Regions from separate parts of the Homo sapiens genome. Here regions 2, 3 and 4 are each reported to be linked to region 1. Evidence: microRNA targets listed by miRTarBase, many of them from high-throughput screens and not tested one by one. Region 1 holds a microRNA gene; each other region holds the end of a gene's coding sequence.
Evidence for each region. Region 1 holds the annotated microRNA hsa-miR-5007-3p (AUCAUAUGAACCAAACUCUAAU, at 4,679-4,700, shown strand). A microRNA usually pairs through its seed, bases 2 to 8, with sites in the 3' UTR of a target mRNA and lowers its output. Matches are read on the target gene's strand: a 7mer-m8 pairs with bases 2 to 8, a 7mer-A1 pairs with bases 2 to 7 and ends in A, and an 8mer does both.

Region 1 (8,398 bases):
CCAATGAAACCAAAAAAGAGCCTGAATATCCAAGAAAATCCTAAGCAAAAAGAACAGAGCTAGAGTCTATCTGACTTCAAACTATACTACAAGGCTACCGTAACCCAAACAGCATAGTACTGGTACAAGGGAACAGAACTGAGAGCCCAGAAATAATGCCACACACCTACAACCATCTGATTTTCAACAAAGTTGACAAAAACAAGTAATCAGGAAAGGACTTCCTAGTCAATAAATGATGATGGGATAACTGGCTAACCATATGCAGAATACTGACACTGTTTCACTTATACCACATAAGAAAATAAACTCAAGATGAATTAAGGACTTAAAAATATGACCTACAACTATAAAAATCCTGGAGGATAACCTAGGAAATACCATTTTGGGCACAGGCCCTGACACAGGTTCTATAATGAAGATGTCAAAAACAACTGCAACAAAAACAAAAATTGACAGATGGACCTAGTTAAACTAAAAAGCTTCTGCACAAAAAATGAAATTGTCAGCAGAGTAAACAGACAGTCTACAAAATGGGAGAAAATATTTGCAAGCTATGCATCCAATAAAGGCCTAATATCCACAATCCATAAGGAATTTAAACAAATTTACAGGCAAGAAAACAAACAACCCCATTAAAAAGTGAGCAAATGATATGAACAGACACTTTTCAAAAGAAGACACAGATGTATGAAAAAATGCTCAAACCACTAATCATTAGAGAAGTATAAATCAAAACCCCAATGAGATACCATCTTAAACCAGTCGGAACAGCCATTATTAAAAACTAAAAAAATAAGAGATGCTGGTGAGGTTGTAAAGAAAAGGGAATGCTTATAAACTGTTGGGGGCAATGTGAGTTGGGTTAACCATTATGGAAAGCAGTTTGATGATTTCTGAAAGAACTTAAAGCAGAATTACCATTTGATCCAGCAATCCCATGATTGGGTATATACCCAAAGGAATATAAATTATTCTACCAGAAGGAAACATGGATGTGAATGTTCATCAGAGCACTATTCACAATTGCAAAGACATGGAATCAACCTAAATGCCCATCGGTGGTAGAATGGATAAGGAAAATAGGATACATATACCACGGAATACTATGCAGACATGAAAAGGAACAAGACCATGTCCTTTGCAGCAACGTGGATAAAGCTGGAGGCCATTAACTTAAGTGAACTAATGCAAGAACAGAAAACCAAATACCACGTGTCTCTCTTATATAGCAGGAATATGCATTGAGTGCACAGGGACACAAAGAAGAGAACAATAGACATCAGAGCCTACTTGAGAGTAGAGGGTTGGAGGAGGGTGATGATTGAAAAATTACCTATTAAGTACTGTACTTATTACCAGGATGATGAAATACATCATTGAACACTTGATAAACTCCTACTGATATGGCTAATGCTTTTCTTCTCCATACTGTAAAGATCCTCAGAAGTCAGTTGCTTTTACCTAGCTGTGCTAACAGTAAACCTTCAGAGCCTTGTTTCAGGGTTGTATCATTTTTTTTTCTTCTAGATATGATCTGATTTGCAGAGAGTTTGATCATCATGACATTCCACAAAGCCCCAGTCTTGTCCACTACATTGATGACATTGAGTTTATTGAATCTGATGTGTAAGAGGTAGCAATTACTATGACATAGTTTCGTAAGGTAAATTCTAGCCAGAATCTGGGCAGTAATTCCACAAAAATGCATGGATCCACCTCTTCATTAAAGTTTCGTGGTTTCAAATGTCTGGAATATGTCTATACTTGCCTCGAAGGTAGCAAATATATTTTTTCATTTTGCACTGTCACAAAAAAAATGTAAAAGCTCAATGCATGGCAGGGTTTTCAAGATTTTGGAGACAACATACCACAGTTGAGAGTGCTTCTTCAGCATATTTACCAAATCATATATTAAGGCTGCCTATATCTTTGAGAGCTATATAGTAAGAGGTGACTTTTCAATAAATACAGGCCAAAGTACAAGATGCTCTTCTCCATGGCCTAATGATTCAGTAAATCCATTGATATTCAAAGTATCTGTGGTAAATAGAGATGCTTTATAGGCCATTCTGATAGACACTAATAGAAGAACCACAAGGACAACTTCTAGGATTTTGGAGTAAATCAATGTTCTCTTCTGAAAGTAAATTTCCTACTTCTTGAGAATTAGCTTCTGACTTACTATTAGCCCTTAGAAGAGAACAAACTGAAGATGACATCAGGTGACCATACAGTCTGCATTTTCCAAGTCAAACGCATCTATTAATAAAGTTGGATATGTGCAGCACCAATCTATCATTGAGTAAAAATGATATGTAAGAAAATGAGTTTGGGCAGGGCTAGGGGATAGAGTGTCTTTTGACACTGCTTCTTTCTGCATTGCTTCCCTTCCAACCATTCACACCTACGGCTTTATGGGAGTTTCATTCAACTAGTTGACTAGAAATAAAACACTTCAGTCTGTTTTACAGTTTGTTCTTCAGGATATGCTGGTATTGCCAATGCAGTTTCTATTTCCTTAATAGTTATTAATTGATACTTATTCTTAAGGAACAGATTATATAAGCAACCTTGATTCCGTAATTTTCTAACATACTATTCTTGGTTTTATTTCTGTCATATAAACTATGTATTTTTCCAACAGCTTAAAGCCAAGTTTATCTTTTAATTTCTCTATAAGTTTCAATCACATTAATCCAATTGTCAACATTGTATCAGTTAATTCTTTTAGGTTATTATTTTTATAAGGTCTTCCACAAATTTAAAAGCATGAATATTTTGCTTTTTTTAAAAAAAATAAACTTAAATTATTCTGTTTTTGACTTATTGTAATGCCTGAGTATAGTATTGAGAAAAATATTACTTACTTTTTCTTTAATTTATTTGGAATCATTCCAATATTTTATTATAAACATTAGATTTCTACTGCTTATCCTTTGCATGCAAACATACAAAGTCTAGGGGATTTTTTAGCCACTTTTTGCCACTTAACAACAACAAAAACAAAACAAAGAAATCTTAGTGCTTTTCTTTTTTTCATACAATTGTATATAGCTACAATTTTTTAATGTTCTACCACTTAGTAGGTTAAAATAAATTTATAGAAAAATAAATGGGAGATCAAATATTCATACTTTAACATAAGAACTATCAAGATACTAGAAGGCAAGAGTGATCTTATACATAAATAAGAGTTATATTCCACAAATCATAAAGGAAATATTGATATATTTAACAACATTTTAAAGGGGCTACACTTACATCATAAACAAAGTAAATGAAGAAATAAATAATGGGGAAATGGGATTTTTAACTTATAAGACAACTTTGTGATTAATTTTATATTCTAAATGTATAAAAATGCCATACAAATCAATACCAATGGAGTAAAGAAGCTTAAAATATAATAAAGTCAGACCTAAAAAACTATACAAATTGCTTATAAAGATGTAATAATATTTAGAATCACTTGTCAGATACATATGAAGTAAAATATGCAATTTTACACTGAGATTGGATTGGAAAATCTCTATTTTTTGTATTATATAGTTTTGTAAGCTATTGCATGGGAAATAAGATTTCTCATTTAACTAGATAATATAAATTAGAGGAGAACTTTGCAATCATTATTTGTTTTAAATATTACATGTTCTTGCAGATAATAAATAATCACTTAGGAATTTTGCCTACAATTTTGCATCTCAATAGAAAGCTATAAGAACACAGATATTCTTGATGCATTATTGGTAAAAGCAGAAGAGTGGTGGAAAACAATTGTATACCCACATTTAATGCAAACATAATAAATTTATGACTTATCTCATTATGTTATTTCCCAATTGGATTTTTTCATAAGTTTCTTCTGATAAACACAAAGGATACCAGGAATTGACTCTATATTACTGCTGTCCAATAGATCGTTCAATAAGGAAGAAAATCTTGTTTATTTGTGCTTTCCAATATGGTAGCCACAAGCCACATGAAGCTATTGAGTACTTAAAATTGACTATTTCTACTGAGATATAATTTTTTGTTTTAGAGATGGGGGTCTCAAATTCTTGCCTCAATCTCCTGAGTTGCTGAGACTCAGGATTCCTTCATGCCAGCTCAGGAATTAAATTTACCTATTAATCAATATAAAGTAAAAGTGGATAACCACATCGGGCTCAAGAATATCTTATTGGGCAGTGCAGTTTGAGGTAAATGTTGCTTCTTTAGCCAGTGTATTAGTTCATTCTCACATTGCTATAAAAAAATGCCTGAGACTGGGTAATTTATTAAAAAAAAGAGATTTAATTGGCTTATGGTTGTGAAGGTTGTATGTAGGAAGTATGACAGCATCTGCTTGGTTTCTAGGGAGTCCTTAGGAAATTTACAACCATGGTGGGTGGCAAACAAGGAGTCAGCACTTCACATGGCTGAAGCAGAAGGAAGAGAGAGAGGGGAGTGGTGCCACACACTTTTAAAACAACCAGACTTTGTGATAACTGACTCACTATCAGAGAACGGCACTGAGGCAGTGGTGCCTAACCATTTTTGAGAACTCTACCCTCATGATCCAGTCACTTCCCAATGGACACCCCTCTCTAAGACTGGGGATTACAATTTGACATGAGATTTGGTAAACCTTGGTGACTAATTAGAGTCTGGCTGATATGGTTTGACACAGAGCTAAATCATATGAACCAAACTCTAATTAGTCAATAATTTCTGTTAAAAATTATCCCTCAAATATCTTCCAAATCAGCCTTCTCTTTCTTATACTGATGAATGCTTCTTTTAATTAAATTTTTATTTTTTTCACCTGTATTACTGTACCATCTTTCTAAATGAACTCTTGTCATTTAAAACCAACCCTAAATTCATCTCCTGAGATGTCTGTAAAATGTAGATCTTCGTCACTTCTATATTTGCAAACTTTCAGCTCCCCCAAGTTGTTAATATTTTGGCCCCAGATTCTCCCTTTAGCCTCACATGGCTGCCAAATCTTCAAAACTCATTTACCTTCCAGACATAAAGCTTCTTCTAAAATTCTCTTTATAAAACATCATGCATTTTCATGTTTCCAAAGTTTTGCACATTTGTATTCATCTTTCTGGAATGCTTTCCTCAATGTTTTCACTTTTGTTTCTTCATTTATTCTTCAAAGACTAAGCTCACTTGTAACCTGCTGATAATTAACTATCCCCAGTTCTACAAGCATATTTGTTAGGGATGTCTCTTCACTGTTTATATAATATCCAGTCTTACTACCCCAGTGATAACTAATGATTCGACGAATAAATATGGTCAAAACTAAAAGCTCAGTAGCCAAGAACTAACAACGTAGAATAAATATTCTTCAATGTAAAAGGCAGAGTAGGAGAGAATCCCTGAAAATGGCAAGAATTGCTAGACATTAAATAAGACAGTAAATTTGATGGTTTGAGTTATTTTTTTCTTGTGATCGTCTTATTTTCACAGCCTATCAACATTTCTTCTTAGAAAAAAAGTAATGTTAGGATAAAAAATTTTAAGTAGGAGTGATTATAGCTATTGGGGACATAATTAATGAGATACCCCTCTTCTACTAGTCTATCTTTGAGTCATGCCTTTCTACTTATAATAGTAAGCTGACATCAGCTATAATAGGGAAATTATCTTCTCTCCTGGTTCCGCTAGTGTCTGTAGAAAAGATGCAAAATTTCACCTACTATAGACATATCCCAAAGACATACCCAATGCCGCCTACATGTTTCTCTAAAAACCCATCTTTTACTCATTGTCACTACATTTCCAGTCCACCTACCAAGTCTGCATTAACTAATTAAACAAACAAGCACTGTTTGAGAGTCTACAGAATTACAAGAAACCTAAGCATTCACAATGTTTCTAGTTCATCAGGAAGCTCAGATTTTGATCTATCTTTGGTTGTTAATTTTTCTGTCACTCCAATCATATTATTTGTTCTGTTGTAGTGCATCTATTGCAGGTCCCATTGAAACTCAAGTATGGCTTATCACACTGATCTTCAAACCCAATGCATATATCAGTAATCATACAAATAATAATAATGTTGACACATTACATTTATTACATATTTACTATGTGTAATTTACTATTCTGAGCACTCCTTTACGTTATGTGGTTTGGAGATTTATAGTACTCACTAGTAACTTACTCAAGGGATATTGAAAGAGTCATACTGAGTAAATGCTATTAAGTATTCTATGATACCAGAAACAACCTTAGTATTGCAACCTTTCAAATATAAACATATGTGAGTCAATCTGAGCTGTGGGTGGACACACTCTAGTGTAACCCCCAGGAAGTCACCTATTGTATAATACCATACCCTTGAATGTGGGCAAAACTGGAACTTGCATTTAATGGAATATGACAAAACGTGCTGGGGTATCTCTGCAGTGATTAGATTACAATACACTTATAAGACTTCATTTTAATAAATTGTTGTATAGCTCTTCTCTTGCTGACCTTAAAGAACAAAACAGAGAGGTTGTGAAAATTTCTACAGAAAGGGCTTCATGGCAGGGAAGTGCAGGCAGCCTCTTGGACATGAGCATGTACTTGGAATCCTAACCTATGGAAACTGAAAAAATGAATAGGTATTGTTTTAAGTCACTAAGTTTGTGACAATTTGTTGTGTAGAAATAGAAAATTAATGTAAGGGCTATCCTAAAAGGAAAAAGAATTTAACTTTGGGCCTTTTAACATATTCAGTCTCTTTAATAAAAGGTGGCTGGTTTTACTGTTACAAATTCTCAAATGTATATTTTCACAATTTGTAAGTATATTGATAATTATGTATTATACATTTAGACTCTCAATGAATTTTAATCAAACTGAAAATGTTTTCTCACTTCCCTTCAATAATAAATAGTTGTTTATTTGAAAATGTCTTCTACCATGTCTTAATTTACAGTACCATCAAATATATAATTGAAGGGTAAGAAAATTCTTAAATTATACAATATTAACCAACACATCCCATTTAACAGAACATGGCAATAATGTTTATCTCTTTTTGTTTAATTTAAAAAGTGTTTGTGAGAAGATGGCATAATGGAGAGCAATGAAATTACTCAGAAAGTGGTTTCTGTGAGACTTTAGTTTATGTTAACATCTTATTTTTCCCTCAGGTGTCAAAGATGTAATGTTAATATTAAAATTCTCATTGTCTTAAAGTTTCCTGAATAATAAACATTCAGGATGGAAACAAGTTGGAAAAGACAAACCACACTCCTTAATAATATATAATCTATAATAGGGAGCAGCTTAGTCATTGGCTTAAATTAAATATTCATTCATTGATAAAATATTTCTGTTCCTATTTATATCATAAAATAATCAATACTCTTTAAAATTTTTCTTAATGTGTGATATGGTTTGACTGTGTCCCCACCCAAATCTCATCTTGAATTGTAGTTCCCATAATCCCCACATATCATGGAGGAACCCAATGTTAGGTAATTGAATCATGGAGGCAGTTACCCCCATACTGTTCTCATGATAGGAAGTTCTCATGAGATCTGATGGTTTTCTTAGGGGCTTTTCCCCCTTTGGCTCAGCACTTCTCCTTCCTGCTATCATATGAAGAACATGTGTGCTTCCTCTTCCATCATAATTGTAAGTTTCCCAAGGCCTCCCAAGCCATGTGGAACTGTGAGTCAATTAAACCTCTTTTCTTTATGAATTACCCAGTATTGGGTATGTCTTTATTAGCAGCACGAGAACAGACTAATATAGTAAATTGGTAACACAGAGAGTGGGTGCTGTTATAAGGATGATTGAAAATGTGGAAGCAGTTTTGGAACTGGACAATAGACAGAGGTTGAAATAGTTTGGAGGAATCAGAAGAAGACAAGAAAATGTGGGAAAATTTGGAATGTCCAAGAGACATGGAGGTCTCAGAAGACAGGAAGATGTGGGAAAGTTTGGAACTTCCTAGAGACTTGTTGAATGGCTTTGACCAAAATGCTGATAGTGATAAAGACAATGAAGTCTAGGTTTAAGGGGTTTCAGATGGAGATGACAAACTTGTTGGGAACTGAAGTAAAGGCTACCTTGCTATATTCTAGCAAAGATACTGGTGGCAGTTTGCCTCTGCCCTACAGGTCTGCAAAACTTTAAACTTGAGAGAGATGATTTAGGGTATCTGTTGGAATAAATTTTAAGCAGCAAAGCATTCAAGAGGAAGCAGACCATAAAAGTTTGGAAAATTTGCCACCTGATGATGCAACAGATAAGAAAAACTCATTTTCTGGGAAGAAATTCAAGACTGCTTCAGAAATTTGCATAAATAACAGGGAGCCAAATGTAAATCACCAAGACAATGGTGAAAATGTCTCCAGGGCATATCAGAGACCCTTCCTGGCAGCACCTCCCATCACAGGCT
Region 2 (8,398 bases), not on the chromosome of region 1:
TGCCACTGCACTCCAGCCTGGGCGACAGAATGAGACTCCATCTCAAAAGAGAAAAAAAAAAATTAAAATACTGATTTTTAAAACCATAATTTTAAATTGTGACTTAAAAAACTACATGCCTATTGAAAGGTCTGATCTAAAAGAAGGCAGATTTTCATAAACTGAAGTATTTTGGTCTTTTGTTTTAAAAACTCACTGGCTTTCCCAAAGCTACAAGAATTCAGTAATCATAATATGGTTATGTAAAAGATTCATTTAATAACAAACTTCTCTGTAACACAGTTTTTCTTATTCATTGGTGATCATTGGGCTTTTATTTCTAAACTCTAGAATATTTGTAACATTTTTTTGAATAGGTAATATAGGCACATAATAAAAATTTAAAAGCTACAAAAGGAAAAATGAAGTCTCTCCTCCCACTGGCCCTAAACCGCCAGTTCTGTTCAGCGAAGATCACCACCGGTCTCAGCGTCTTATGGATCCTCCTAGAGTTGATTCTACATTTATAAATATGGGAAAAATAGAATTTTTCCCACATAAATGAAATTTCAGCACCTTCTTATTTTTTTTACTTTGCAATCTGTCTTAGAGATCTTTCCAGATCCATTTATGTAGAACTGGCTCATTCTTTTAAACAGTGGCATAACATGCCACTGTGGGTCAAGCATCCCTAACCCAAGAATCTGCAATCCAAAATGGTTGAAAATCTGGAACTTTTTGAGCGCCAACGTGATGCTTGCTCAAAGGTCAAGCTTAAAGGAAATGCTTATTGGAGCACCCCAGATTTCAGATTTTCAGATTAGGGATGCTTAACAGGTAAGCACAATGCAAATATTCCAAAATCGGAAAAAATCAGAACTACTTCTGGTCCCAAGCATTTCTTTCTTTCTTTTCTTTTTTTTTGTTTCTTTCTTTTTCTTTTTTTTTTTTTTTGAGATAGAGTCTCACTCTGTCACCCAGGCTGGAGTGCAGTACTGCCATCTCGGCTCACTGCAACCTCTGCCTCCTGGGTTCAAGCCATGCTCCTGCCTCAGCCTCCTGAGTAGCTGGGATTACAGGTGTGAGCCACCACACCCGGCTAATTTTTTGTATTTTTAGTAGAGACAGGGTTTCACCATGTTGGCCAGGCTGGTCTCGAACTCCTGACCTCAGGTGATCCACCTGCCTCAGCCTCCCAAAGTGCTGGGATTACAGGTGTGAGCCACTGTGCCCGGCCTGTTCCCAGGCATTTCAAAGGGATACTCAACCTATGTATGTGATACCAGAATTTAACCAGTTACTGGGAGTATTTATCTTAGATGCCCATGCATCTAAGTAATGCGATATTTAATATACTTGATGGTGTGTGTTTATAAACCTGGGATGCATGAGACTGTATCTCTTCCTGGGCCCTTTGTGAGACCAGTCACCAGGTATAGTCAAAACAGTTGAGCATCTCAAAGCAGTATGAGCTGAATTAAAATATGTTTTGTTCTGGTCATGTGTATTTCAGTTCTGATTTTGAATGAGCAAATGTTTTCATTCCTTTAAAAAAGCTTTAATGTTTTCCTGGCCAGTCTAAGTAAACTACTAAGGTGTAATTTTAATATCATTTTGAAAATATGTATTAAGGTTTCTGATGTTTTAAATAATAAAATTTGGGTTACTATTTCACTTGAGAAAAATGACACTGTCGACCTTTGGTGTATATTTTTGTTTCTCCAATAGGCTCTTTCAAGTGAGTCATTTGAGAGACTTCCAGTTTTTAATAAGTCCGCATGGCGCCATTACAAGACCACGCCTGAAGCCGATGATTGGAGCAATCCCAGCAGTGAACCCAGGGATGCTTCAAAATACAAAGCAAAACAGTAATATACCACCTTGATTTCCATTACAAAGTATCTGATTTGTCTGAATAAAGGTGTCCCACTCACTGTTCCAGGAATTCTTGCAGTGTAGAGGTATTCACAACAGCAAGCAGGGATTTGGCCTGCCATCAATTTTATTTAAAAAGCAATTAAGTTTGCAGTTTGTCCTCATAAACGTTGTAGGTTGAAACTGAAAAATAAGTTAAAATGATCAATCAAGATAAAAGGTGATCTATCCATCCAATGGAATATTATTTGGCCTTAAAAAGGAAGGACATTCTGATATGTGCTGCAACATGGGTGAATCTTGAAGTCATTATGCTAAGTGAAATAAACCAGACATAAAAGGACAAATACTATGATTCCACTTATGTGAAGTACCTAGAGTAGTCAAATGCAGAGACACAAAGTGGAAGGGAGGTTGCCAGGGGCTAGCGACGAAGATGGAATGGGGAGGCATTGTTTCATGGGTACAAAGTTTCAGGTGGAAAGATGAAAAACTTCTGGAGATGGATGGTGGTGATGCTTGCACAACAGCGTGAATGTACTCAATGCCACTGAACTGTACATGTAGCAATGGTTAAGATGGTAAGTTCTGGGCTGGGTGTGGTGGCTCACGCCTGTAATCCCAACACTTTGGGAGGCTGAGGCTGGATGATCTCTTGAAGCCAGGAGTTCAAGACCAGCCTAGGCAACATAGTGAGACCTCTGTCTCAGCAAAAAATTTAAAAAGGTAAAATTAGCCGTGTGTGGTGGTGTGGGTCTGTAGTCCTAGCTACTCAGGAAGCTGAGGCGGGAGGATCACTTGAGCCCAGGACTTCCAGGCTGTAGTGAGCTATGATTCGCACCACTGCACACCAGCCTGGGGGACAGAATAAGACCGTGTCTCAAATAAGAAAAAGGTGGTAAGTTCTATGTTATGTATAGCTTATCACAATAAAAAATGTTAACATTATAAAGGAAAAGTTATCAATCACAGAACAAGTTTCACTGTTTTATGGTAATAAGGAAAATAATCTGTAGTTTTCTTCTGACTATGTACCCTTAAGCTTCAACTCTACTAGCAACAGTGGGGTTCTGCTTCATTTAACTTAAAATAATCCTGTATTAACAAAAAAGCAGTATATGTGCATTATAAAAAATAAGAAAACATTGGCTGGGCGCAGTGGCTCACGCCAGTAACCCCAGCACTTTGAGAGGCCGAGGTGGGTGGATCACTTGAAGTCAGGAGTTGGAGACCAGCCAGGCCAATATGGTGAAACTCTGTCTCTACTAAAAATACAAAAATTAGCCGGGTGTGGTGGCACACGCCTGTAATTCCAGCTACTTGAGAGGCTGAAGCAGGAGAATTGCTTGAACCCAGGAGACAGAGGTTGCAGTGAGCCAAGATAGTACCACTGCACTCCAGCCTGGGCGATAGAGCTAGACTCCATCTCAAAAAAAAAAAAAAAAAAGAAGAAGAAGAAGAAGAAGAAAGAAAACATAAGTAAGCCAAAAAAGAAGGAGAAACCTCTGTGTTCCCAAAACCCAGAGATTGCCACTGCTATAGCTTCGTGTATATTCTTCCAGATATTTTGCCATTTGTGTATATATGTATTTTTTTTGCAAATGAGATTACACTATTCATACTATTTTACAACCTGCTTTTGTTTCATTTAACCATCCCATCTTTCCATGTCAATGATCATTCACTGCAACCTCTGCCTCCTGGCTTCAAGTGATTCTCATTCCTCAGCCACCTGAGTAGCTGGGATTACAGGCGTGGGCCACCATGCCTGGCTAATTTTTATATTTTTAGTAGAGACAGGGTTTTGCCATGTTGTCCATGCTGGTCAAAAAAAAAAAAAAGAAAGAAAAGAAGGAAGGAAAGGAAGGAAAAGAAGGAAGGAAAGGAAGGAAAAGAAGGAAAGGAAGAAAGGAAGGAAGGAAAGGGAGGGGGAAGGGGAAGGGAGGGGAGGGGAGGGAAGGGAAGGAAAGGAAAGGAAAGAGCTAATGGAGCATTTTTTGCTAGAATATCCATAAACACTGTTGCAGAATTACACTGAGACCCATGACATCTCATTGACCCACCATTAGTGATGTTATGATTGAGCATAGTTTAGGTGATGGCTGTCTGATCCCTCTGAGTTATAGTTATTTTTCCCTTTTTCACTAGAAAATAATCTGTGTGGTGTTATTTTGGCACTATGCAAATGTATACTTACCCATCAGCTGTTCACCTAATGGTTTTTACCCCAATTGATCATTTCGGCCTGTGTTAAAATTAACACAGTAATTTTATTTGGGTTTATAAAAGAATGTTTTTTTTTTAAATCATTCCTTTGTCAATTATTCTCCTATAAAGTAAAGCTCTTCCTCATCAAATAAGGCCATTTAGGTATTTTGAAGTACAGTTCCTCTGGTAACTGTTTAACTCCTTCCTTTTAAATTTAAAGGGACAATTAAATTCCCTTCAAGTTACCAATTTTCCAGGTAAGAAATATGTTAAAAGCCACCTTAAATGGTTAACAAATGAGTTTATGGCTTTGTCTTTTTTAGTGTTATAGTAGATTTTGTTACTTTGATATGTTTTAATTGGCACTTATTTTATTGAAGCATAACATATAGTAATAGTAAAGTGCACACATCTTAAGTTTACAGCTTTTTTTTTTACATCTATATTTCCTCTACCCACAAAGACTCCTTTCTAGTCAAACAGTTGTCCCTCCCTCCTCCACCATATAATTGCTTTTCTAACTCTATCACCATAGGTTCTCTTCTTGAATTTACAAGGAACACATAGTCTATACTCTTTTTGTGTCTGGCTTTATGTGAGATTCATCCATGTTATTGCATGTAACAGTCATTTTCCTTTTTGATGCTTGAATTGACATACCTTTGGCCAATGAGAGCTATTTCCAGCTGGATCCTTAGTGTTCTATTGCCAAAACTCATTAATCTTTGAAAGCTTTTCTTGCCCAAGATGATATCCTAGATTCATCTTATACCTTCTGTGCCTGTGTCCTAGAATCAACTGTTTCCCTCAAGGAGTCTTGTTTCTTTTCTTTTCTTTTTTTTTTTTTTTTTTGAGACAGAGTCTCACTCTGTCACCCAGGTTGGAGTGCAGTGGCGCAATCTCAGCTCACTGCAGCTCTACCTCCTGGGTTCAAGCGATTCTCATGTCTCAGCCTCCCAAGTAGCTGGGACTACAGGCATGAGCCACCACGCCTGGCTATTTTTTTTTTTTTTTTTTTTTTGTATTTTTAGTAGAGTTGGGGTTTCGCCATGTTGGCCAGGCTGGTCTCGAACTCCTGACCTCAGGTGATCTGCCTGCCTTGGCCTCCCAAAGTGCTGGGATTACAGGCATAAGCCACTGCACCCAGCCCTGTTTCTTTTTAATCAGTATTAGAGATGCTAATCTGATAATTGGGGATGCTTGTTATACCTTTTTTAGGCCCTTTTCCTTGACAGACAGAGCTATAAAATATAGCTATATTTAAAATATATTTTAAATCATAAGTTCATATTGATATTTTATTCTATTTTAACATTGTAATGTTTCTCCCCAATATATTTTAATTGTATATATTTCTTATTATCCTGAAAACCTTGATTTTTAACATCTTTAACACAATGCAACAGAAAGATATTTGTACACAAATACAGTTTATATAGCTTTGCAGTATTGTACCATTTAGTAGCGTTGGTCTTCTCTGACAAGTGTTATAAATGATATCCATATGGATGTTTATTTTTTTCTATGGAAGTGTCATGGTGGACTGCTACGCAATATTGCTGGACTGGCCACTCATCTCAAATGATGAAGTTTAGAGAAGTTTGGTTTGTGGAAACAAACATACTTACTCTCACCATTCCCAGCCAAGTTTAAGCTAAATCAGCTTGAAATACCTGGATCATATCAATTTCTGTTGATTCCATTTTCAGTCTGTATGTAAGTCAAATAGAATGTTGAGCATCGATGTGACCAGTTGATTCAAACTGCTCAAACTATTGCTCTGATATGTGGAGTAATTTGAGTAGTGCAGAAGCCATCTTTAGAAAAAGGTTTGGTTGTAAAAAGGTGGCTTTAATTGAATATTATTTTAAAGGCAATTTTTAAACTAAGGTTTAAACTAAGGTTTAAATTTTAAACTGAAGGTTGTATGCTGATTATTAGTCTTAACTTCTAATATATTATTAGGTGAACAAATTTAAGCAGAAAGCAGTTCTTAAAATTTTAAAATGCTTAGCCTGACAGTTAAAATTGTTAAACTATACAAATAATCGGTAGAGATTTGGGGAAAGACTTTAGTAAGTATGGTAAATTCACTAGGTATTTATACATGAGAGGTTCTAAGAAAATTTATTTTCAAAACAGTTTCTAAGTGAGAGTTTTATTGAGATTAATTCACACAACATAAAATTCACCCTTTACAAATATATAATTCTGGCCGGGCACAGTAGCTCACGCCTGTAATCCCAGCACTTTGGGAGGCCATGGCGGGTGGATCACTTGAGGTCAGAAGTTCAAGACCAGCCTGGACAACATGGCAAAACCCCGTCTCTATTAAAAATACAAAAATTAGCCGGGCGGTGGTGGCGGGTGCCTGTAATCCCAGCTACTTGGGAGGCTGAGGCACGAGACAAACCCAGGAGGCATAGGCAGCAGTGAGCCAAGATCACGCCACTGCACTCCAGCCTGGGCGACAGAGCGAGACTCCATCTCAATAATAAATAAATAAATAAAAGTATACAATTCCATATTTTTTAGTATATTCACAGAGTTGTGCAGCCCTTCCCACTAACTTTAGCATATTTTCATCACCCCAAAAAGAAACCTCATAGTTTTTAGCAGTCACTCTATATTTCTAACCAGAGTTTTCACTGACAGTAAAGAACCGTTTTAAAGTATATATAAGTAATTAAATGGTCATTCTATTTCTGTAGTAATTGTAGAAAATAATTCTGAGATATGGCAAGGGTTTTTGAATTATCACTATAATGAAATACTCTAAAAGTCCTGGTCAAAACAGAGGAGGTTGTACTCACAAACTCACTATGGATATTCTCATTATTTTCTTTGTAGAGACAAGATCAAGACTAATAGAACTTTCTAGAGGACTGAATGCTGTGGTCCTCTCTGTGAAGAAAGATTGCCTTCTGCAAGTCAAACAGAGAGAACTGCTTTCTCCCACCTGCTCTGAGCGTGGCATCACAGTTATTCCTAGTGCTTAAATGTGTATTTTCTCTCTACCACCTGGACTTTCCCAAAGAGTTTTTCCTGTAGCTACTCCAGATCTTCCACTAAAGTAGTAACTTTTTAATGACATCTTGCTGTGGTGTGATTGATGCCTGTCACCGAAGAGCACAGAGCCTCCTTACAGCTCTTGTGCCCTCGTACTCTCCATCTTGTTATCATAGCATCTGATGTCTTCAGTCCTTCCAGGATTCTGTGCGCCTTTCCCATTCCAGATACAGCAGATCGTACTGTTGCTCCTTGTGACCAAATACCATATTTGTCCCAAACCTCCACCTAGGGCCCTGGGACCCTGAAAGTGGAAGACATCAGGTGGCCATGCCCTGATGATTTAGTCCCAGAGCCCTCCGTCTCTCCCGTGCCTCCCTCCGCCACTCTATGATTTAGACTTTTGCCTTCTTCCATCTGATCGGATTCTCATTGTGAGATGTGGTGACTTTCATGTTAGATCTTCTTCATTGATGCCTTGGTTTTATTTTAAAATTCATTTGTATATGTCTGTTGATTAAAGCATTCGAAATGTTATCTTAGAATTTTTCACCCAACTGCTTGGTTTCAAAGATCTTAAGTGAAAAACTGCCTCCTGGTCAATACCAAATTTGTACAGAGTGTGAAGTGGAGTTTTTATGCTTCTGTCAAACTTCCATCCATCTAATACTGTACCTGTGTCATATTTTATTCCTTTGTAGTCTTCTAAGGAATTGGAAGTTTCTGTATGATGCGCTTTACTAGTTGTAAAATAGACTATCAGAGGGAAAAGGCCTCTCTAGTTTATTTTTGAAAAATGCTCCAGGTCTTAATAATTTTCATTTTCATTCATCTTAGTTTTAGAATTGTCACCTCAGTCTGATTTTCACAATCCTTTTTGCTAAAAGTTGGAAGTGGGAATTAGCAGACGATTTGGGATAAGGAAAGAGGAATGATGTTATATTTACCCTTAGGAATAGAAGTGACCGAAGAATCCGGATTGAAACCAGCATCCTATATACAGCTCCACAGGATGTGCTTCTCTTCATGGTAATTTTCCATATATATCATCTACTTTGATTTCTGCCCCGTTTTAATGTCCATATAAATGTTTCAGTCCAATTTGTAAGTGTTGAGTCCACTGATGTAGAAGTTCTGACTTGTAAACCATTCATCCTGCTTTAGTCATATGATAGTACCGATGCAATTAGCTCCTCTCCCACCACCGTGGGGGATTTCTCCCTGAGATGAGGTGTGCTTTGACCAGCTGCATGTGGCTTGATTGCATTCCTGTTTCTCTTAGTTCCACTGGATCTTGTTTTCTTTTATTTCGTTATATTACCTGAGC
Region 3 (8,398 bases), not on the chromosome of region 1:
TGACTCTTATCTTTCCCATGCATGAGCACTGAATCAATCAGAGTCCCTAGCATGTCTTGGACTGTGGCCTCCCTTCTATCTTCAGATTATCTGCCTTTTTAGAATTATGGCAATAACTTAACTGCAAAGACCACATGTGCACTTGTGCTCTTTCAGTTTGTAATAAATATAAAATGAAAAGTGATTATGTCTTTGCTTAACGTCTGCAAAATAAAAGTCCAAAGTCCTTGGTATGGTCTATAAGGCCCTCATTATCTGACCTGCCTGCCTTCCCAATCTCATCTTAATCCCTTACAGCCTGACACTCAGACATACTAGACTTTCCACCTAACTCACTCACATACACCTATCCTGTATGTCAAGATTCGGCTTGACCTTCATCACCTACCTATCTGCAGTATTTTTGGATCTGAATTCTCTGCCCACATTGTACTTTCACATACTTCTTTTACCCTTAGTGGTTTGTACTTATGCCTGGTCTAACTAGATTGTCTCCCTGTAACAGACTTCTTGATTCAACAAAGCAGCTCTGAATCAGCCTGAAACCTATGGCACACTGCAAAATGGCAAACATTCAATAGGTATTTGCCCAGTAAATGTTAATGAAAGGAAAAAAATTCAAACTTCAGTTGGAATAGGATTAGAGACAAGTTAAAAAAAAGTTTCCCATAGAAATCTTCCTCATCGTAAATATCATCATCCTAAATGTCCCGAGTCTTTCCATGGGTCTAATTTACCAAATCATGAAGACTCTCTTTCTCACTGTGTATGTGTAGTGGGAGAGGCAGAGACAGAACGGTTTTTTTTTTTTTTTGCAAGTCTGCTCTCTGGATTCGTTTTTCTGGGGATGAAATCTCAGGCTATGTAGCTTTTCTGGTCCCTTTTTGGTAATCAACAAATCATCAGTTTCTCTAGGTATTAAAAAGCCTACACTTTTGAAACACCAAGAGGCCAAACTCTCTCTTAATTGAAAACATAATTCTGCCTCTTACTGAGGTCTTTGGGTGGGAAGCTTAAAGACAGCAGTGTTGGGGCAATTGGTTTTTCTTTTCCTCCCTCCACCTTCTTTCCCATTCAAGAGCTGTTGCTGCCCTTTCTGGAGGGGAGGGAATTAGAAAAAAAGATCCTGCCTTACCCAGTCACTGTTAATTATTACTTTGAGCCAGGGTGGGGAATGACTTTCTTTCCTGGAATACACCCTGCTGGAAACCACAGCTGAGATTCTCTAAGCTGGCAGCTTCCAACCTCTCCTCCCTCAACAGCTTCAACATTATATGGCACTCAGCTGCAGGGTGCCTGGCTCCAGGCCGGCAGTCCATTTGTGCAGGGTAGTTTTCAAGATGGCTCATAGCCCATCTCTTTCAGTGACCAGCGTGGCCTATGGGAAACATACATCTTGACTCCATTATTGGTAGGAGTACTCTTTAGTTAACTGCCACAGGCCAGTTCAGACACGTCTTACCCTGAGAGCCTTTTCAGAGTCAGGTACCATCCCTGTGTCCCCCAGCATCTGAAGATCACAGGTGAAGGTCTCCAAGTAGTTCACTTAAAAAATACCTCAGTAGGTTTAAGAACAGGGAAAGCTCCCAATTCATTCTGTCAGGAGTATGACTCTCATCCCCAAACTGGACAGATATATAATATGAAAACTACAGACCAATATTCCTTATGAATATAGATGCAAACATTCTAAACAAAATACTAGCAAACCAAATCCAGCAGCATAGAACAAGGTTTATGTAGCATGGACAACTGAGATTATCCCAGGAATGCAAAGTTAATTCAATATACAAAAGTCCATTAATACAACATATTAATAAAGGACAAAACAACATGAAAATCTTGATACAGAAGAAGCATTTAACAAAACCCACAGCCCCTCCTTTTTTTTTTTTTGATTAAAAAACACTCAGTAAACTAGGTTTAATAAAAGAATTTCCTCAACTTGAAGCAAACCCACAGCTAGCTAACATCATACTCAATGGTGAAAGACTGAATGCTTTCCCCTTAAAATCAGGAACAAGAAAAAGATGTCTGCTCTTGTCACTTCTATCCAATATTGTACTGGAGGTGCTAGCCAGCACACTAAGGCAAGAAAATGAAATAATAGGAATCTAGACTGGAAAGGAAGAAGTAAAAGTATTTCTGTTCACAGATGCATGATCTCATATGCAAAAAATACTAAGTGACAAAAAAAGAATTTTAGAAAAGCTACAATATACAAAATCAATATACAAAAATTAATTTTATTTCTAACACCAGTGATGAATACAAAAATAAAAATTAGAAAATAATCATATAATTAAAGTGGCATCAGTAAAATACTTAGAAAAAAATTAAAGACGTCAAGACTTGCACACTGAAATCTCTAAAACATCACTGAAATAAAGACCTAAGCAAATGCAAAGACATCCCACAGTCATGGAACAGAAAACCTAACACCATTAAAATAGCAGTTATTTCTCAAATTTATCTACCAATTCAACTAAATCCCTATCAAGATCCCAGCTGTTTTGCAGGAATTGACACAATGATCATATAAAAATTCATATGCAATGCAAGGGACCCAAAACAGACAAAATGATTTTGGGGAAAAAAAAAAAAAAAATGGAGGACTTGCACATCCCAAATCTAAACTTACTACCAAGCTACAGCCATCAAGACAGTGCGGTGCTGGTATAACGACAGACATATAGGGCAATGGAGTAAGACTGAGAATCCAGAAAGTCTTATATTTATGGTCAACTGTTCTTTGACAAGGGTACCAGGACCATTCATGGGGAAATAATAGTCTTTTCAACAACTGGTGCTTGGGCAGATGGATATACAGATACCAATGCACTTATGCAAAAAATGGATGAAATAGGAAACTTCACTACATTCTACTGCATGCTCGGTCATTTTCAATCATTTAGGTGGCAACACTGACAAGATAACAGAAAGATGGAGGTAATAACATGTGAAAGGCAAAATGGTTTGTTTTTTTTTTTAAAAATGACAGTCTCTATCATGAATTTACTTACACTCCAGGCAAAGGTTATTAGAAGAAAAAAAGATGTAAGAAAATTCCTTAACTGAAATGTGGAAAGAGTATCAAGAGGAGACCCTAAGACACTCTGTAAGAATCCCAGTGACTCCTCACTGTTCAACTAAGAAATGTACCCCATTATGCTGTGCTACCACGGAAGCATTGGAGGCACTTTGGGGGTTGATGAAGTCTTCATGGATGAGGTACTTTAAATATCTGGTCATGAAGAGTATTTGAGAAATATGACAAGTGAAGATGCTGGGTAGGAATGCAGCGAGGAAAGTGTGTAACACAAGGCCAAATTGGAAAGGTCAGTGAGGGGGCAATCTGTGGAGGCACTGAATGCAGAGGATATTAAAATTAGCAAGATAGTGTTCTAGCACAATGAAAAGGATTGGAAGAGGGAGATGAGAGTCAGGGAGTGAAATTAGGCAGCTGCTAAGAATGTCCGGGTGAGTCAGAGGATCAGGACCTGTAAGGGCAGTATAAAGAAGGAAGGAATGATGGGAGAGGTTTAGGGGGAAAGAAGTGACAACCTGTGACAATTGAGGAATGAGAGATTTTGATGATTGGGGTGAAGGTTACATTTCTTAAAAAGAAACAAAGAATGGTCGGTCGATAGAGATGCAAGATGAAGAATTTTGTTTTTAGGACTACTGACTATGAGGTAACAAAGAAATCCCAGAGACAGAGGTCTGAGCAAAAGATATGGGATTGGGGAAGAATCTTTGGGAGTGACTGAGGTTGACTAGAGGGAACTGGGCAAGAACAGGTAAGGACTTTAAGCAGAATTGGAGGAGTATCCATCTAAAATCTGGGTAAACTGGGATGGAAAAACAAGTAGCCAGAGAAGCAACAGCCCAAGCTAGGGTGTTGTCAAGGTTATAGATGTTACTGATTTTGGCAATGAGGAGATTATAAGGATCCTTGAAGACTGTACTTTCGGTGAAACTACCATGCATTAGTAGCCTTTCACAGTGATATCTACCCCACACCTGCATCAAAATCTTGCAGTGCCTATTAATAAATGCCAACCCACTAACGGGGAGGGGAGAAAAGACTTGGGACTCTGTACTTGTAAAACCCTCTACCCTCCCCAGGCAATTCTTTACACACTAACACTGTTGAGGTAAAAGGAGACAAGTGAGGGAGCAAATGGAAGGTGTGTTTTTGGATTATACAGTGGCTCATGGAAGGGTGGGAGGGGTACAGATGGCCCTTAGACACTGGCGGAAAGTCAGAGAAAAAAAATTACAGTAAGCAGGTAAAGGGATCAAGACTACACAGGGACTAGTCTTGGGACGACATTTCTTCCTCTGACAGTTTGTATGGAATTCTTGAGAAAAATTCCTCGAAGGGGCCTGAAATCTCAGAATGGTCATGTTTTTAATGGGAATAGGGAGTGATGCTGCCCCATTACAACCATCTGTTCTAACAGAATGTCTGTACCGAGGAGGGATGAGTAACATCGGCAAGTTCTGTTCGAAGCCTTTTTCAAGTTTCTTTTTGATATGTATCTATCTATCTATCATCTCCCTATACAAGCAAGCATCCCCAAAAGTAGTTGTCTCAGGAAACCAGGGTTAGGATGACCAGCTCATTTGCTGGAGCTGCCAAGGTCCAGAAAAGTTTGGCTGCAGGCTGTTTTCATGTTTTATGTATGTTTGAAATGTTCTATAATAATAAAAGGTTAAAAAAGTTTACATTTATTTGGAAAACCAGTTACTTTAGTTTATGGTTCCTTTTTTTCCCTCCAGAGCTTCCTGGAGATTGAGGTCTAATTCAAAGAAAACCAAAATATATAATAGAGTACCTGGGCAAAAAAAGTACTTTTATAACATAACATTTGGGGTAGAGGAAGTATCCACTGTAGTCAAAATGTCTATGTTTTGCTCTTCCTTATTGTTCAGGGACATTCCATTAAATAGTAATGAAAAGGCAGCAAAAGTAAGAGGAGTGACAACATGCCCGGCATAATTAAGCAAGCTAGAGCAGCTATTCTGTGCAACCGACGATTTTTTTTCTCTAAAATTTTAAGGGTAGGTTCATTCTGACTCTGTTAAAAGTCTACTTGATGTGAACAACTCTATATCTGATAACCTATTTCAATTACCACTTTAAAACTTGTCATATGGATACGTTATTACAATTGTAGAACTTTAATAAATACCATAATAATAAAACTTGAGAACTGAAGAGCACACATTTCTTCACGAATTTATTATATAAAACGCCCTCAGAGTATTTAATTTCTCCTCACTTTAATTACACATTAAGAAGCACAGTGGATGAGAAGCCTTTAAGATGACTACAGTTGCACGAAGGTCCCTTTCATCAAGGTAGCGTATGTACCCTAACAGTGTTCTAAAGGCTGGCCCAGAAAAACCCCATGTTACCTTATCACAATATGGAAAGCATTGTCTTCTTTTTCCACTAAATTAAATTATGGTGAAAAGTGCCACAGTTTTATTTAGCATTATGGTACATAACAAACAGTTCTGTCTCAATTATGAAAAAAATTAATTAAAATAATCCTGAAAGACATCCTTTTTCTCCCCCCAATGATTTGAAAGCTGCATTTTTCCTGCCAATTTCAAACAAACAAATCATCAGGTTGATCTACAGTAATCAGTTAAAACAATCAGTCAATCAATCAATCAATCACCAAGGCACAAGCTCAGCACATTAGCTATAGCTTGTAGCAAAAGGATATATCAATGTCTCACCTTAGTTAAAAATACATAATCCTTTTATTTTATAATGCAATAAAAGAAATTAACAACATCACATACACAGAAGACTAGGAAAGGGGAAACTACTTACTTCTGGAAATCAGTAATGTAAACCTACTTGTACTTTTCCATAGTACATGAAAGTAACGTTTAACATGTTTTGAATTAATTAATTAAATTTAATCTGTGGGGCTATACAATGTAATTCTTAGGAGTAATAGTTTCATTCATTTCCAGGTCAGCTTACTGTATGATTAAGTAACACAAGGCACAGTAGCCATCTTTTTCATTATGTTGCAACACTGATCACGTGCCTCGATAAAATGGCTGATTCAACAAGATGATGGCAACACGAAGGGGAGACTTTGGATTGTCTATTTAAAATCTAGGTAATAAGTAAGTAATTAATAAAAACTCTATCTTAAGTGCACTTTCACATGCTTTTTGTTTATAATAAACAAACAACAAACTTCCTAACTTTGTTGCAATAGGCTTGACTACCATTTCATTTGGCCAAATGCACTTTCCCCAGTAAACTTAAAACAACAACGAGAACAACAAGAACAAAAATCCCTGTCCTTTCATATACTAAGAAAGAGGATTGGCTACTGAAACAGTTCATTGCAAGACACATGAAGACGACATACTGTGGCATGAGTTGTTTTTGTTTTTAATTTGTTGTGCTGTTACTAAAGTTCTGAGGGCTGCAGTTAAAACATTCCAATTTCTCCCTTCCTTCCATCTTTCTTTATTGATTGATTCTCAAGATTTTGCACAGAAAACTCTTTGGGGGCTAGAACAGCAGTAATTGCATCACACTGTTTTCAAGACTTCAAGTTTCAAAAGCAAATCATTAAAAAAAATACAGTTCCTGATTTGAGTTAGATACAGGGACAAAAAAGTAGCACATACTTGAAGGTTACGTGGTCTACAAATGGTGGCAATATTTTCCTTGGGAGAGTAGTTCTGTTGGTATATATTTTTTAAATACTCAAAAGGCTCAACCTCAAGCAGTAATAAACACAAGCAAAAGTGATTTAACCCTTAAAATAAATATTCAGAAAAACCTCTCTGTACATACAAGTGAAAGAATATGTAACACTTTCACGCAAAAAAATAATTATAATAATAATAAAGGATTTGTTCATATATGTAGCTGAAATCTGCTGTTCCAGCCCACATGTCCCCAATAAAGAAGGGAGGCACAGACATAGGTGACTACTGTGGTTGACTATCTTACAGCCTTTTTGTACTGGGACACTATCACCACCAAAAATTTATCCCTCGTTATATTTTTAAAATTTTTTAAATTTTTTCTTTTTTTTTCCTTCCTTTTTTTTGTTTTATTTTGTTTTGTTTTGTTTTACAGCATGCCAAATCCTTTGGCATACGTGATGGCCTTCAACAATCTCTCTTTAAGTTTTTCTTTGCTTGAGTATTCCGGAAGTAAAAGCACATTAAAGCAAGTATGAGATGTAGGTAACCTAAATAGAGAAAAGGGGAAAAAAACAGGAAAACTGTAAGTCATGGGAAATACACTTAGAATTAAATGCTCCTATTTTTAGATTGTATATAGTTGAGACGGTCTGCAATGCAAACTATACATTAATGCAAATCATAAACTTTTTGTTGTGTAACTACCAAGTTGCCTTTATCCTATAAATTACTCAAAGCTAGTGACGATGATAAGATACTGTATCCATTGAGTTTTTACTACATAACAGATACCATTTTAGGTACTGAATTCTTACAGTTCATTTAACTAAATCTTTCCACAACAAAACCACAGAGAGGACATCAGTAAATGCACTTTAGAGGTTAGGTCACTGAGAAGTCAAGTAACTTCCTCTAAGGTGGAGAAAATACTCAAACCTGTTTTACAAGACTGCAAAGTGTGTGCTCTTAAATGCTTATTAGAAACACTGCTGGCAATATGACTAAGAAAATGATTTGATAACAGGATTCTAGCACAATCAAATGATAATCTTCCGAGCCTCAATGTAACCATTCTAAATAGATGATCATGTTATATGGCTTTCAATTAACAAGCTGGGAATCAAAAAAGTAAATGAATCACACTAATTTGATTCCAAACCAATGTGAGCCCCATAATAATTTTTAACTAGGGCAATTTCTTAAAAGTTTCCTCACACAATGACAGCAAAGTATTTTCTCAATTGTCTAATATGATTTGGGGATTTGTATATAAAATCACGAATGTGCTCAGAAACTATAAAGACAGTTCATATGTATGTGACGAGGAATGCAAGGTTTTCGGTAGGTATACAGTCACAAGTTAATAATTACCTACCTTTCTGTGTCTGGGCCATTTTTGGCTATAATCATCTTTAATTTTCCTAGTCCTCCCACAGGTGCTCTGTCTGTGCCCGTTGTAAACTGCAAGAAGAGTCTTTTCTGTTCATCTGTAAATGAATGAACGATTTCCCAGAACTCCCTAATGAGAAAAAATACAATACTGGTTTCAGTTTGGCATTCATTATGACTGGTACTAACATAAGCTTATGATTTGCATTAAAACTATATTAAGAGACAACTTGGAAGTTAATTATCAGGATAGTATCACTTCTGGTGATTTAAAAATTTCCAAGCAAATTTATCCTGAACAGCTCTGAATACG
Region 4 (8,398 bases), not on the chromosome of region 1:
TGTTTTCACAAAATATGCTGTGTTTCATTTCTATTCTATGCAACCAGAGTCTTTAAAGTAGACAGCATCAAGAAAACACGTAAGCATGAAAAACCTTGTTAGCGTGGTTAAGTTAGTTAATTTTATGCTCTTAACATTTTAGAGCAACCAAGCATAGGTTCAGAGGTTTTCTCCTGTGTGTTCCTTTATTGATTAATGTTTGTTCCTTATTAGCGAACATTTAAAAACCTTTACTACTCCTTGCAAAAACAAAACTTGTTTTTTTTTTTTTGTTAAAAGAGAATTAGTCATACTTTTTAATGACATTGATGTGAAAATATCGTATTTTAAAAATCTGTGTTTTAAACATCTTGAATCTAAGATATTGGTGCCGTGGCTTTAGTCTTTCATCATATAATTTAAGAAAATGTATTTTCTTTGAAAAATTATTTCCAGAAACTTACGAATAGCTTGGTCCTGACTGAGTAGTTTTCATCATAGTGCAGTTAAGTCCTGCTGTTTAAGGCCTTATGGATTCTGATCGAAACAAACTTGCTTTTAGTAAATAAATAGCACCGAGATATGAAAGTCCAAGTAAATGGCAAAGTGAATTCTTTCTTTCCCAGAAAAATGCTCTCAAAAATTTGATTTTAGTATAAGTAACACTTTTACTTAGATATCATAAACTCATTATGATTTTACTGTAGATAGACTCAGCCCGAATTCTAAATTCTATGAGGGTAGAGACTGTTTTTGTCATTACTGTAATCCCAGAGTTTATCCTCATTCCTTGTACAAAAAATGTTTGTTATATCATTATATATTTGTAATTATGTATATTTTTATATAGTATTTTGTAATATACCCCCCATTAACTGTAACATTCTGAATTGATAACATTGTGTGTAATAACTTTTCTTAATGTTTTTGTCTTTCTCTGTAGGTTGGTATTTTGTATGGCATCTTTTTTTATCAAAATTCAAGTTTCTCCGGGAACTGGTGGGAGACACAGGATCCCAAGAGGGAGATCATGAGCCTTCAGGGTCTGAAACTGAAGAAGACACTTCCTCCTCTCCACACAGAATCAGATCCGCTCGCCAAAGGAGGGCACCTGCTGATGAAGGCCACAGACCCCTGACATAGTCCTGTACTTGTGAAGGATGAAAAGGCAGTTGCCAGCTTCTGTCTTTTACTGACTTCGCTTTGAAATTTACTAATGACTGAAGAACATTTGTATTGGATTTTAAGTCGAATTTTAAAAAAGATTTACATGTAAGCCATATAAAAATAAAGGGAACTGAAACCAAATTGGACTATTATAAATTTCATCTTAAAGATAATCTTTTGTTTCACCAGCTTTCTACTTATACACTTATTCCTTGGCTTTTGGGCTTATTTTCTTGCACTGGTGCAGATCTGGTAAACATTAAAGGCTTGAAAAACCATATTTTGTTAGCCCTAAAATGTACATTTTTCTTCCCATTTTAACTTATCTGAAATTGGGATGCATCTCATTACTGTCAACCAGGTGATAGTCATGTAACGCTCCTACCGTGTGCATGTGTGAATTTACAGCTTGTCATCGTGTCATCCCTTTAACCAACATGTGTTTTGTTGGTATCAAATGTGTCAGGTTTAATTGACATTTTAAAATGTCTTCAAAAAGATCACACTATGATTCAGCATTGAAACGAAAAGTTATTGTGTATGCAGAAAAGCATGGAAACAGAGCAGCAGGGCGTACATTTGATATTAGTGAAGCAAATATTCGTCGCTGGAGAAATGATCGCAATTCCATATTTTCCTGCAAAGCAACAACAAAATGTTTTACGGGACCTAAGAAAGGTAGGTACCCACAAGTAGATGAAGCTGTACTACGTTTCGTCAGTGAGACACGTGCAAAAGGATTGCCTATCACACGCCAAGCAATGCAATTGAAGGCAGGAGAAGTTGCCAAAACCCTAGGAATTGATGAAACAAAATTCAAAGCCACAAGAGGCTGGTGTGACCGATTCATGCGTCGAGCAGGACTATCATTAAGGCATCAAACATCGTTTTGTCCCAAGCTCCCCACTGCCATTAAACAGAAGACAGTGTTGGAGCACTCTTTCAAGAAGTGCTGCATAACCAGTACTCTTGACAACACCGGGAGAGACGTTCTGTGGAAAAATGCAGACATCAATGACTGTGGTTTGAAAAGTGATTCAGAAGAGTTGGATTCAGAATATGAAGTTATAATTATAACTTAACCAATTTATTTCACACATTTTCTTTACATATGCACAAGATTGATGTGATAAAAATCTGTTTAACTCAAAGCGCTGTTTCAATAAATATAAACATTTTCTGTGATATGAAAGCATTGTGTCATAGTTTAATGGGCAGTGTTTTTTCTTAGTGATACATATGGTGCATCTTAACAATTGGTAGTGTCTTAGGTTAAATTAAAAATGGTAGCTTGTAAATTTATTTTTCTTTTTAAGATAGCAGTTATTTATTGGGGAATTTGATTCTGACTCTTACAATGTTAAACTTGTAATCCTGTGTGAAACACATGTTTTTGGGGGGGAGGGGGTAACCAAGATTTCAGGGTAGTAACTTAGGAATCTAAGAACTATCTTCTACTTTAGGAAGAGTGGGATTAGTTACTCCCTTTGTATAGGAGGACTTTATGCTCAAGGAATGTGTTGTGGAGAAAAACACTTCTTCACAAACAATTCAGTGACAAGACCTCAAAGGTAATGCGTATTGAGGAAAACAGTAGTGGGTGAAAATTCCCGCTTAGCTGTAAAATGACTCTCTTGCCAGGTTTCCGTGTTTGTCTCAACTGAACTCTGGGCTGAGTGTTTACCAGGGAGAAGAGATGTGAATTAAACAACCTTCCTGTTTAGTGTTACCTGCTTTGTACAAGAATGAAGTGCAAAGCCAACTTACTTTATTAATCCAAGTTCTTTTTATGTTTTTCTTAACCTTTATTAAGGACTAGTCATCACAAAATATCTATTTAACCTCTATTTTATGATGGTGTGTTATTATGTTTGATACCTCATACTTCTTGCTTAGAGTTTTGTTTAACAGTTCACTGGCTCTGTCCCAATGTTTGTGATGAACACCTTTTTGCTATATTGTAGCTCTTGGAGATACTAAAAGAGAATTCACAGAACATAACTTTAGTTTTATGTGTTTGCTAGGGGAAGATTTCCTAGCAGCTGAGAGCAAGGCACAGTCTCTGTCTTCATTTCTTTATTAGATACAATTTTCTATTTTTATGTGACTCTAGGGCATAACAAAACAGTGACAGTTTCAAGCGTTAATTTTAATGCTTCCTACTAGCTAAATATCATCTTAAAATGATTATCAGAAAAAAAAATAATGCCCCCAAAAACTTTTGGGGGCATTATTTGGTACTGGGAGGATATTTAAATTAGATTTTTCATAGTCTATTGTTTTGAACTATGGATTCTGTTTTATGGTGGATACCTAAGGTTTATATAATAGTTGCTGGAAAACTTAAAGTAGCTGGTGAGCTTCCTGTTATGTCACTATTAAAGAATGATGGCTGATGTAACTCTGCCCCTGAAATCTACAAGGGTCATGCCCAAATTAATACAGGTTAACCTTTGTAGAGGTATATATGTTGGCATTATTTATTGACATTTATGCTTCAAGCATGTCTTATTTTATGTAATTTTAAGAAATACTCTATTTAACTTGTGAAATATACCTAAAAGCATACTAGTTAGCTCTTAGACTCTCACTTAGGGAGGGTAAAGAAACATCACTGATGCCAATATGAAGATCTATAAACAAATCCTTTGTTTAGAACTTTTTTCTCTTCGTGCACCTCACAACACACTTACCATGGTACATATTTCTTAATGCCACTAAGAAAGGCAAGATAGTGAACGCAGAATTATTTATGTGGTATAGTGTTTGTTTTCCTGTTTTAGTGCTTTTGTAGCTAAAACTTACTGGAACTGCATCACAACTACATTTGCAGTCTCAGTGGGAGGTGGACTAGCCTGTGGTTAATTTTAGAGCTTAAAAGTTTATAAGCATTAAAAACACATACATGTATTAGAATCTTGTCTAACCCCTCACAAAGGATGATGGTGATCAGCATGCCATCTTTTGAAGATTAATTCTAAAATTGAGGACTCTGGTAGGTTGTTTTATTTCCTTCCCAACCAGCCATTCATTTCCAATTGTTCTGCCTTTGAAACTTTTTGTGAAAATTGCCTGTACCAATTGCATTGGTTGCGTTGCTCTGATTTAAATGCCAAAAACACTAAATATTTGTGTAGTGCTGTTAAATGAGGTTTTTGATATTTCCATCAAAATGAATATAAAATTCACTTGATGGATTTTGTAGTGATGTTTTCACAGTTGAAACAAACATATTGCTGTGCGGTGGACAGCCACTTCACAGACATGCAGACCCATTTCTTTAGAGATATTAGGTTTAAAACCCATTTTAATTTTATTTTGCTGAAGGTTTGGAATATATAAAGTAATGGATTCACAAAATATGATATCTTAAAACATGTTGAAAGATTTGAAAGTGGTGCATTTTTACTTTTAAGAGCAGCAATCTTTGAAATTAGTCAACAATGCAGTCTTTTTTAAAAGTCAGTTTTCTCAAGTAGTATGTTGTAACGTAAGATGTAACTGATATAACTAGATTTTGACTGGTAAACTTAAAGTGCTTTTTATATTTGAGGTTGACTTTAAAAAGCCATTGAGCAGTCCTCAGAGGTTATGGACTCTCAAGCGACTAATGGAATAGTGTTCTGTTGTGAAGTCTAGAACTAAAGCACCTTGTATTGTCTGCTTCTAAAGTGTCCTATAGTTTTTAACTTAAAGTGTAAAGAGTAACATTTTATCTTATGTCAATTAAAGTTACATTTTTCATTTGTTGGTGTACATGTGCTACCTGTTTTATGGGGAATGTTTAACACGATCCTCCAAGTTGGTTCTATGCATAACCATTCACCAAATACTGCTGCTGTGATTCCTTGAAGGAAATATTCTGTGGTCTGCTATGATGCATTGCCATCTTGCTGCTTGACAATAGGTTTATAAATAATTAGAATTACGTGTTTTAATAGTACCTTTGTATATATAACAAGATGTAAAATTAAAGATGAGGAATGTGTGTAAATGATCATTCACTGTTTTTGTTTTAAAACTGGTCAGTACTATGAAGCTTCTGTGGTTTGTATGATGTTTTAACTTTCACTTTAAACTGCATAGAATAAATTAAATTGAAAACAACAAAAGTTATGTGTCTCTGGTTGATAAAGGATAATAAGTATGAAGGGTGCCTTGGACATGAAGGGATTTGAAAGCAGCCATTCTTACTAATGGTCCACACTTCACCCCATTTTTCAAATGAAAAGTCTAGAAGAATTAAGAGAATAGCAATAATATTTCTTAGTGCCATGAAAGTAAATGACTTAGGACATATATATAGCATTAAAGGACACACAGACACACACACACACATATAGTGTTAGAGCTACATTATTACATTTACCTTATTGTTTTCTTCCCATGCTGTATTCAACACCCTCAAGGTTGTTTTGTTAACCTGTTTGCCACAGATCATGTTTCACATTTTTGTTAGTATTAACCACCAGGAAGATTGAAGAAACTCATCAAAGCCAAGTAAAAAGATGGAGGAGTTTCTTTGAGAATGCAATTGAGAAAGAAAACCATGAATTTCATTGGCTGGGGCAAGTTGTGACTTCTCCAGGAGTGCTCAGCTGCCAAGAATGTAGGATGGGAAGAAGTGGATTGTGCTAGGGTTGGATTTTGCAAGGCAGGTGTGTCTGAAGGGCAGGGTCATTAGAGATTGCTGGAGATTGGCCCTGGAATTTGGGCTGCGTCATGAGAGAAGTTGGATCAGTAAGGCACTGGTAAACTGGATGAAAGGAAAGGGATAGGGAATTGAAGATAAAATGAATGTGACGTGTATGATAAGTTTGGGATGGAAATTAGGTGAAGTAGTTCTGAGTGATGACACTAAATACAGCCATAGAAAAGGGGAATCTGAGAACAGTGACTCATTTTAAGCATATGATGTGAGCCTCAGAATGGCCACTAATATTTTCCACATGATGGCTACAGTTGGAATGGAGAAGGTAACTATGACTTGGGGGCCATGTCAGGGACTTGGAAGACTTATCTTAAGGTCTGTTATGTCTGGTGGCTCTTAAAAGGAGGAGGGAACTTCCTGAAAATGGAAGAGGAATGTTCTGGGGGAGCTTCGAGAATGCTCTTTCCTCATCCTGGCCTCCCACCCCCTGGGCATCTCTACAAGTGCATTAGTTTATCTTGTGTAAGTAATTCAGCTGGATTGTAAGAATGATGCTGTTTACAAAGAACTTTGTGGGGGTTAGAGGAGGAAGGAGGGAAGGACAGCAAAAGCTTCACTAAGAATCTTGAAGAAAGGAGTTGGAGTTTTCCAAGTAGAGGATGAGGATTCTAGATAAAAGAATGTGCACAGGCAGTGTCATGGGAAGGTGCCTTGCTTGGAGAACTATAGATAGTTGGTCATTCCTGAAATAGAGAATGCACGTGTCCGGGGGTGGGGGTGGGGGTCCACTGTTTTGACAATAGAGATGTACAGTCTAGGTCACAAAAAGACTTTGTGTGCAGTGGCAAAGGCTTTGAAGTTCATGTCATATGGGACAGAGACTACTAAACTATTTTAAACAGAGAGCACTGATTTGCTTATTTAACATATGTTGAGTAGTCGACTAATCTTCCAGGCATCTGCACTAGTTGCTCGTGCTAACTGCAAGGAGGAGGACTGGTTGGAGGCACGATGGAAACAGGATGTCTCTTAACTGGTCCAAGCAAGAAAACAAAACTAATGGCAGACTGGAAAGGAGCAATGACCATGGGAAATTTGAGGATATGAAAAATCAATAGGACTTGAGATTAGATTGTGAAGGAGAAGGAGAAATGAAGGATGATTTCAACATTTAGCAGTTGATAACATGGGGGGATGCATACAGCAAGAGAAGTAGGTTTGGGATTGGGCATAGGGAGGTGGAAGATAGGAGTCCAGTTTTGGGCATACCATATTTGAATTTCAGGTGCTTATATGATATTACGTAGACAGAAATAACCAGTTGTACAAATAGTATGAGGGACATGGATTGAAAACACAGACTCAGTGTTATCACTATGTGTATGCATTTGAAGCTGTATGCAAAAATAGGATTCCCCAGGGTAGGGGGGTGGAATAAGAAGAGACCCAAGGTGACACTGCTGTGGTTTGAATGTTTTTGTTCCCTCCAAAAATTCATGTGTTGGAAACTTTATGCAATAGGGTTGGGAGGTGGGGCCTAATGGGAGGTGTTCAGGTCATGAGGGCCCTGATCTCATGAATGGATTAATGTCACTATAAAAAAGGCTTTCAGGCATGGGATCCCTTTTTTTTATTTTTTGAGATGGAGTCTCACTCTGTCTCCCAGGCTGGAGAGCAGTGGCACGATCTTGGCTCACTGCAACCTCTGCCTCCCGGGTTCAAGCGATTCTCCTGCCTCGGCCTCCCGAGTAACTGGGATTACAGGTGCCCTCCACCATGCCCCGCTAATTTTTGTATTTTTAGTAGAGACAGGGTTTCACCACATTGGCCAGGCTGGTCTCGAACTCCTGACCTCAGGTGATCCGCAGGTGTGGGCTCTCTTTTCTTCCATATGAGGACACAGTGTTCTTCCTCTGCGGAGGATATAGCAAGGAGATGCCATCTTGGAACCAGAGACCGAACCTGCCAGCACCTTGATCTTGGACTTCTCAGCCTCCAGAATTGTGAGAAATAAATTTCTGTCCTTTATAAATCACCCAGTCTCAGGTATTCTGTTATAGCAGCACAAAAAGAACTAAGGCTGTTAACAGTGTGGATATTTGTCCCCGCTAAACCTCATGTTGACATTTGATTCCCAGTGTTGGTGGTGGGGCCTAGCAGGAAGTGTTTGGATCATAGGGGAAGATCCCTCACGAAAGGCTTGGTGCCATTCTCTCAGTAGCGAGTGAGTTCTTGCTGTATTAGTTCCCAAGAGAGCTAGTTGTTAAATAAAGCCTGGCAGTTCCTCCCCAACCCCTGCTTCCTCTTCTCCATGCAATCCTGCACATGCAGGCTCCCCTTCACCTTCTGCCATGAATGGAAGCAGCCTGAGTTCCTCACCAGATGTCCAGTCTTCCAGCCAGTCAAGTCAAGAGCCAAATAAACCTTTTTTTAAAAAGAAAGAAAAAAAAAAAAAGAGGCTGGGGGCAGTGGCTCACGCCTGTAATCCCAGCACTTTGGGAGGCCAAGGTGGGCAGATCACGAGGTCAAGAGATGGAGACCATCCTGGCCAACGTGGTGAAACCCTGTCTCCACTAAAAATACAAAAATCAGCTGGGCGTG

Region 2: the mRNA of PDK3 is a reported target of hsa-miR-5007-3p. The part of its 3' UTR that is shown has no 7-base or 8-base seed match.
Region 3: the mRNA of UBE3A is a reported target of hsa-miR-5007-3p. Seed matches in the 3' UTR shown: 7mer-A1 at 6,904-6,910, 7mer-A1 at 6,341-6,347, 7mer-m8 at 5,156-5,162, 8mer at 2,546-2,553 and 7mer-m8 at 2,166-2,172.
Region 4: the mRNA of SMIM13 is a reported target of hsa-miR-5007-3p. Seed matches in the 3' UTR shown: 7mer-A1 at 2,204-2,210, 7mer-A1 at 2,331-2,337 and 7mer-A1 at 3,770-3,776.

The regions. Positions count from the first base shown.
Region 1 is chr13:55,169,831-55,178,228 of GRCh38, forward strand. MIR5007 (microRNA 5007) reads left to right here and starts at 4,624; the gene lies at 4,624-4,718. All of the region lies in intron 4 of LINC02335 (long intergenic non-protein coding RNA 2335), which reads left to right.
Region 2 is chrX:24,532,222-24,540,619 of GRCh38, forward strand. PDK3 (pyruvate dehydrogenase kinase 3) reads left to right here. Exons shown (of 11, transcript NM_005391.5): 11 at 1,708-2,201. The coding sequence ends at 1,851. Among named protein-coding and RNA genes, the nearest start is that of PDK3, 71 kb to the left of the region's middle.
Region 3 is chr15:25,332,014-25,340,411 of GRCh38, forward strand. UBE3A (ubiquitin protein ligase E3A) reads right to left here. Exons shown (of 13, transcript NM_130839.5): 12 at 8,072-8,215; 13 at 1,715-7,244. The coding sequence ends at 7,124. All of the region lies in intron 146 of SNHG14 (small nucleolar RNA host gene 14), which reads left to right. Among named protein-coding and RNA genes, the nearest start is that of SNORD109B, 58 kb to the left of the region's middle. RefSeq lists a silencer at 1-163.
Region 4 is chr6:11,133,481-11,141,878 of GRCh38, forward strand. SMIM13 (small integral membrane protein 13) reads left to right here. Exons shown (of 2, transcript NM_001135575.2): 2 at 923-5,253. The coding sequence ends at 1,122. Among named protein-coding and RNA genes, the nearest start is that of ERVFRD-1, 26 kb to the left of the region's middle.